Homo sapiens: one gene and its partner. The gene in region 1 interacts genetically with each later gene. Each region holds a gene or a part of one and is shown on either strand. Other genes may lie near its edges.

What was found. A genetic interaction does not mean that the proteins touch.
Region 2: changes in FBXW7 (region 1) and TOP3A together harm fitness more than expected from each alone (negative genetic interaction), as found in Homo sapiens cells (one large-scale study listed by BioGRID).

What each region holds. Positions count from the first base shown.
Region 1 is NC_000004.12:152,529,593-152,533,092, forward strand, and holds part of FBXW7 (F-box/WD repeat-containing protein 7), read right to left. Parts: intron 1,259-3,500; exon of another isoform or gene 1-1,258. UniProt on the Homo sapiens protein: Substrate recognition component of a SCF (SKP1-CUL1-F-box protein) E3 ubiquitin-protein ligase complex which mediates the ubiquitination and subsequent proteasomal degradation of target proteins.
Region 2 is NC_000017.11:18,280,495-18,283,994, forward strand, and holds part of TOP3A (DNA topoisomerase 3-alpha), read right to left. Parts: intron 2,348-3,500; coding exon 2,204-2,347; intron 165-2,203; coding exon 42-164; intron 1-41. UniProt on the Homo sapiens protein: Releases the supercoiling and torsional tension of DNA introduced during the DNA replication and transcription by transiently cleaving and rejoining one strand of the DNA duplex.

The DNA.
Region 1 (3,500 bases):
ATATTAACTGTAATGTAAAATTGCACAAAGTGAATTACACTTTCTGAACAACACATGTGAGAAAGATTCACTCTTAAAAATATAGCAATGCTGGCCAGGTGTGGTGGCTCACGCCTGCAATCCCAGCACTGAGGGAGGTCGAGGTAGATGGATTACCTGAGCTCAGGAGTTAAGAGACCAGCCTGGGCAACATGATGCATGGCCTTTGGGGTTACCTGGTGGGTGCTAAAACACACACACATATACCCTCGAGGCTCTCTAATTCCCTATCAATCCAAAAGTTGTTACCCATCTCTATCAAAAATACAAAAAAATTAGTCGGGCATGGTGGCGCATGCCTGTGATCCCAGCCACTCGAGAGGCTGAGGTAGGAGGATGACTTGAGCCCAGGAGGTGGAGGTTGCAGTGAGCTGAGATCACACCACAGCACTCCAGCCTGGGTGACAGAATGAGACCCCGTCACAAAAAAAAAAAAAATACACACACACACACACACACACACACACACACGTGTATATATATACGTGTACATATATATATATACGTATATATATGTATATACATCAAAGCTTTTTAAAGTACACATTTAAATGATTTAAGTGATTTGTTAATATACACTAGTACTTGAAATTAACAAAACAAAAATTGCGATGTGTAATTCTACACACTGAATTAGCCACTGCAAGAGATTAAGACTTTAATAGATAGCAGTATCAAACTTTAATGCTCTTATAATTTGACTCATATTATTCAAACCAACCATAGACACTTCTAATTTTACACACGAAGTAAATGCTTTACATTTATTTTCAGAAGGTTTCAAAAGTATGCCCACAAGCTTCTTTACAGATACTTTTGGCCATGATACAAAGCCAGTATATCACTAAATGCCAACTGTGGTTATCTTTAGATAAGAAATGCAGGTAGTCCCTACTTTTTAGCTGCATCCCTTTAAAGATGGTATCACCCCGACCCTCAATCCATAGTTTTCATCACCATGAAGGCAAAAGTATTTTGTACAGTAGAGTATGTGCTTTATGCAGAATCATTTTAAATGAACTCAGAGAAAAACATCTCATCTAGAAAACAAAGACCACCAAAAATAGCCAGTCCTGGCTTTGTAGTGTAATAAAGCTCATACTGTTTGTTGGTGGATTTGGCAGTTGTCTATACCAGGAGTCCAAAAACTTCGGCCTATGGGCCAATTGGAGCACGGCAACATTCATTCACTTCCTTGTTGTCTACAGCTGCTTTCACACTATAAGAACAGAATTGAAAGTTGTGACAGATCATGTGGCCTGTAAAACCTAAAATATTTACTAACTGGCCCTTTACAAAAATAGTTTGCCAACTCTTTCTCTACACAATGAGATGTCAGAAGCACCAGAAGACTTCTCCAAGAACCATCTCCAAAGTACAATGAAATGAGCCTATGCATGGCCTTTGGGGTCATCTGGTGGGTGCTAAAACACACACACACACACAAACATATACCCTCAAGGCTCTCTAATTCCCTATCAATCCAAAAGTTGCCAAGGCAAAGTACATGAAGTTACCACTCTTCCCACTGTCCTCACTAGTAAATAACATTAACTATAAGTGGCTGCCTTCTAAAATTCATCTGAACATGGCTTCGACTGCACAAAAAATGTTGTGGAAAGTGGAGGATGACAAGAGAAGGCCTCCATATGGCATATAATCCAATCCCTATATTTTCACCCTAGAATCACCTTAGACCTATCTCCTTGTTGAAACATCTCTTCCCCAGAGTTTCTGCCATTTGAATAATCACTGTTAAGAAGTCAGAGAAGCTACTAGGAAGGTGCAGAATTCCAACTAAGGAACACAAAAAAGTGTGAATATATATTTCCTTCCTCACAATCCTTAATCCTGTTAAAGTCAATACTAAATGCAAGCCGCAAAAATGTCTACATTTTTTTAAATGCCAAGTTGCTTTTTTTTAATAAAAAGTTTAAAAGGAAAAAAAAAAAAAAAGCATGTTCAGCACTACTGTGCCTACACAGGGATATCCCCTCCATTGTATGGGACACAAAGACACACACCAACTGTGAACAAGGGAAGCAGCCTTCTCTGTCAGCTATTTTTGGCCTCACTTCGTCATATCAAGACCAAACGTAGGATAATAATGCACAGTGAACTTTAAAACATGAATTTGAGGAAACAAATCTGTCCTTCTATTTATAAATTCCTTAACAATGAAATTATTATTAAGTATACTCTTCTGAACTTAATCTCAAGGGACCTATATACCCTATTTAAAAAAAAAAAAAAATTTTAGCTTGTTTCAAAAATACAGAATAATATACCCTGGGACTAAACTGGTGGCCATGTTTAAAGCCTGCTCATTCCTTTTTAACTTCAACTCTTATCCACTTCTAAAACATCTATTTTAGGTAGTGTCTCATTCATTCAGATTTTCCCCCTAACTAAAAATACCCACTTTTCAGCTCTTCACTTTCCATCAGTACTCTGGGAAACCTAAATACTTTGAAAATAATTCCAACTTTACATTTTCAGTATATTACCTGCTAAACTATTTTGCTGTTTTGAAACTGCACCAGTATCCAATTGTTGCCCTAAAATTTCACATCCAAAGCAAAGTCTACTGTCCCATTTCTAAACTCTTTTTTGTAAGAAGCCACTTTCAACACACTAAGCATCTTCTTTTTCACTCCTCCTTCTGTATAGCCCTGGATAGCCACGATATAATAAAAATGTTGGTTCCCTAGAAAAACAAAATCCTAATCCAGGCATACAGCTTTTACCTAAAATGTAATTTCTCCCCAGTCATCTGAAATTACTCTCAGGAACACTCTTCTCAGTTGCTTCTTTGAACTGTAATCATGTGTCTACACAAACACAACTGACCCTAACACTACTCAACAACCTCTATCTGTATTCCCTTCAAACCAGCTTCGTAATTTTATCTGTCCCTTATGCCTTTCAATTCCAAAAGTCTTAAATATTGTGTCTCCACTTGCTCTTTTCTTCCTAAAAGAAACCTTCCCAGATTTGGCTTCAATACTTCAATTAGTTCTATATGTACACGTCCAAAAGCAACATTTCCCTAGTGAAAAATGTAAAAATATATTCACATCTATAAGTTGACAATATCTAACATCCAGTGCGGTCTTAGATAAATATTGGTCTATCCCCCCTCTCCTATAGCTTTGTGCAATTTGTGTTTGATTGTCTCCACCACCTACAAGTAAAAGCATCTCAAAGGCAGGGACCCCAAAAACTTTGTCATTTCTACCCAAACGTGCAATAAAACATTACCATAATTTTTTGGCAGGACGCGGTGTCTCAACGCCTGTAATCCCAGCACTTTGGGAGGCCGAGGTGGGCAGATCATTTGAGGTCAGGAGTTCTAGACCAGCCTGACCCACATGGTGAAACCCCATCTCTACTAAAAATACAAAAAAAATTAGCCAGGCGTGGTAGCACATGCCTGTAGTCCCAGCTATTTGGGAGGCTGA
Region 2 (3,500 bases), on another chromosome or scaffold:
CACACTCCAGAGGAGGCACCTGACTCAGGTGCCCAGCTCACCTGTACACAGGGTGTGGCTGACAAACTGGACACACACTGCTGTCCCTGCTGGCCTCCAGCACCGAGTCAGGAAGCCACACAGCTGAGCGACACTCTGGGAAACCCATGCAGCTGAGGTAGAACCTGGGGACAAAGTGCCATGTCAGATGATAGGAGTGCAGGAGATGCTCTCCGCTGTTGGCCATCAGCTAAGGCAGCCTTTCCTCAGCTGCCCGAGGACAACATTCCCTTTTCTGGATGACACTTAACTGGATACACAAGCACTCATATTGAATTGATTGGGAAAAATGAGCCTTCTCACATCCCAAAAGCACAAAGCAGCTATTGCTGGCCCTGCTTTCTATTTAGAAAACCAACAACCAACCAAGCTGACGCCAGGGGCTCTGTGCTGTGCACTCACACATTCTTGCCTTTCTGCCTCGTGCCAAGTCTGGGCAGTGTCAGGGGCCCCCTCAGTTTGCATGTGAGTAAACAGTGGCTTGGTGTGGCCTGGAAACCTGCCCAGAGACATGCATGCATGTGTGGATGGGAGCCAGGAATGGAAACCCATCTGTTTGTGACAAAGCCTCACCTGCAACATCTACACCCCACCCACTGCCCATCCATCCCATCCCGGTCTCTCCTGGCCAATGTTTTTCAACACCTTGCAGTCATGAAACGTTAGGGTTTGACTAGCTAATATGCATGTGATTTACAAATTCCTCATGAGTGTGCCTGGGTACACTATGAAGGAAAAAAAAGCCCCGAACTCCAATCATTTAAATAAGAAATTTACAATCTCAGAAATGGAAATTAACAGATAAATCATGGAGTGGCAAATCCCACAAGATAATCTCCTGACCTTCTGGAGTAACTCAGAGAAGCATTACAAAAGAATAACAGAAGAACAAACGAATAACTAAAGAATAATAATAATTCTCCAATTCAGAGAATTGGAGAATTCAGAGCTAAAACAAAAGTAGTTATTCTCTCTCCTTATATTCCAATGAGTACTAATCCAATAACCTACCGATAGCAAGGAAAACCCATCGACAGCATTTATTAAGTGCTGAAATATACGCCCAGTCATTGGGCTAAGCCTAGAGTGGCACTGGCTTCTGTCTGTGAGTGACGCGAGCCCTGACACCTGCTTCCAGGTCTGGCCCATAGACCTCTTGTTTCTGAGAGCCTGGGTGGCCTTCTCTTCACTTGGGCCAGCCAGGTTAATGATGGCTGGAGGTGAGGAGTTGAGAAACCTCCTTTCTTATTCAGCAGCAAGGAGCACAGCAGTCCCAGGTGGGCCAGGCAGGATGGAAAAAGGCAGTGAAAACCCGGTTTCAAACTCTGCTGCCCACCACGGCTGCTTGACTCCAAGCAAGCACCTCAGCCCTCTAAGCTGCATAAAAATCCCTGCCTTGCAGGGTAGTTAGGAGAATGGGATGAGGTAATGCTTACAGAGCACCACCCTGCATTACACCAGTGAGGGACGGCACCTGATGAATGATGGCTGCCACCCCTCCACCTCGTCTTTCCCCGTGAACTTCCTCCAGTGGCCAGCCACTGGCTCCAACAACCTGATGTGAAGCTAAATTGCCCACTCAGATCTACTATATTTAAAGCGAAAAGGGAGTTGAGATTTTCAGGCCCCATTCAGAACTAAAACTAGGAGAGAACAAAAGTAGTATCTGCTGAGTATCTACAACACATCAGGCAATGTGCTATATAGTCCTGACCATTTTCACCAAATCCTCACCCTTAACACAGCCTTGTAAGTACTGACATTTTATAAAAGAAGAAATTGGGGTTCAGAGCAGGTAAGTAACTTGCTTCAGGCCACACCACTTATATGCGGCATAAGTGGCATTTGAACCCAGACCCACCTAGATCTGAAGCTCATGCTCCTCCATGTGTTACACATTGGGTATATGATGTCCTATCCACAGGGGACAAAAAAACCCCACTATCATTCAGTTTCTCACCTGCTCTGAATTCCCATAGTGCTTTACACCTCAAAGGCCTGATCCCACCCTGCTATGCTTTTAGGCCAACACCTTGCCTGCAGGTTGGCAACAACAGGCCTGTCTTGAAAGATTCCATGGAGTGAAATGGCAGGGTCTTTCGAGCTACGGCTGACACCGCAGGTGCTGGGGAGCAGAGGTGGGGGCAGAAGGCAGCGCACTCACCCGCCATTCTTCTTGGTCTTAAGGACCATGTCCTTGTTGCACTGTGGGCACTTCCTGATGGGCTCTGGCATGGCTGGGTAGATATCTTCTTGCTGGGCCAACTCTGTCCCATTCCCAAAGTACTGGGCCAAGGCCTCGTCCAATCTGAAGAAAAGGCAAAGACAGACACCCATCAGCCAGCAATCGCTGCAAAGGCACCTACAACACTCTTACATGCACACAACAGGCGTGACCTTGAGAACCAGCTGGTCAGTGAGCCGCAGGCCTCCTGCAGAGAACAGACGGCAGACAGAAGACTGAGCTCACCATGGGCCCTGGTGCCGAACCAACTCTTGGGAGGAGAGTCCAGATACAGGCAGATGCTTCTGCTTGTCACCAGCCCACATTAAAAAGTAAAACTGGGCCAAATGTGGTGGCTCACGCCTGTAATCCCAGGCCGAGGCGGGCGGATCACCTGAGGTTGTAATTTCGAGACCAGCCTGACCAACATGGTGAAACCCCGTCTCTACTAAAAATACAAAATTAGCCAGGCATGGTGGCGCATGCCTGTAATCCAAGCTACTCAGGAGGCTGAGGCAGGAGAATCGCTTGAACCCAGGAGGCAGAGGTTGTGGTGAGCCAAGATCACGCCATTGCACCCTAGCCTGGGCAACAAGAGCGAAACTCCATCTCAAAAAAAAAAAGTAAAACTGCACAGGGTCCATGTACAAACTCCAGGAGTGTCTGTCTGTATTAAGTCTAAACTAGCTCATGCCTGCCTTTTCACAACTGGCATGGGGTACTCTAAAGAACAGAAAATAACAAACTGTTATCTTCTATTACAGTCTCACAACACACATCAGACACCAGATGTATGGGAGTTTTCCCCATACACCAAGCAACTCTCCCGCCACACACCAGTTGGACATCCTCTAATTCAATTCAATTCTGACACTATGCACCTGGAGATCCATCTAACGGTTAAGGGCTCAGTCCCAGAAGACTGCTGCCCCAAATTCCCTCAGATGTCAGTCACAAATCCCAGGCTGTGACCTGTGCTTCTGACTGACTGGCTATAAACTGGGGTTCCTCAGACCCCCTCCTTGGTTTGATTCTCAATAGAGTGGCTCACAGAGCTCAGGGAAACACTTTACTTATGCTTACCCGTTAATTACAAAGGATCCAGGTGAATACCCAGATGGAAGCAATGCACAGGGCAAGGGATGTGGGGAAGGGGTAGCTTCCATGCCCTCTCCCAAACACCCACCCTCCAGGAGTCTTTACCTGTTTAGCTATTTGGATGTGCCCCAAACCCAAT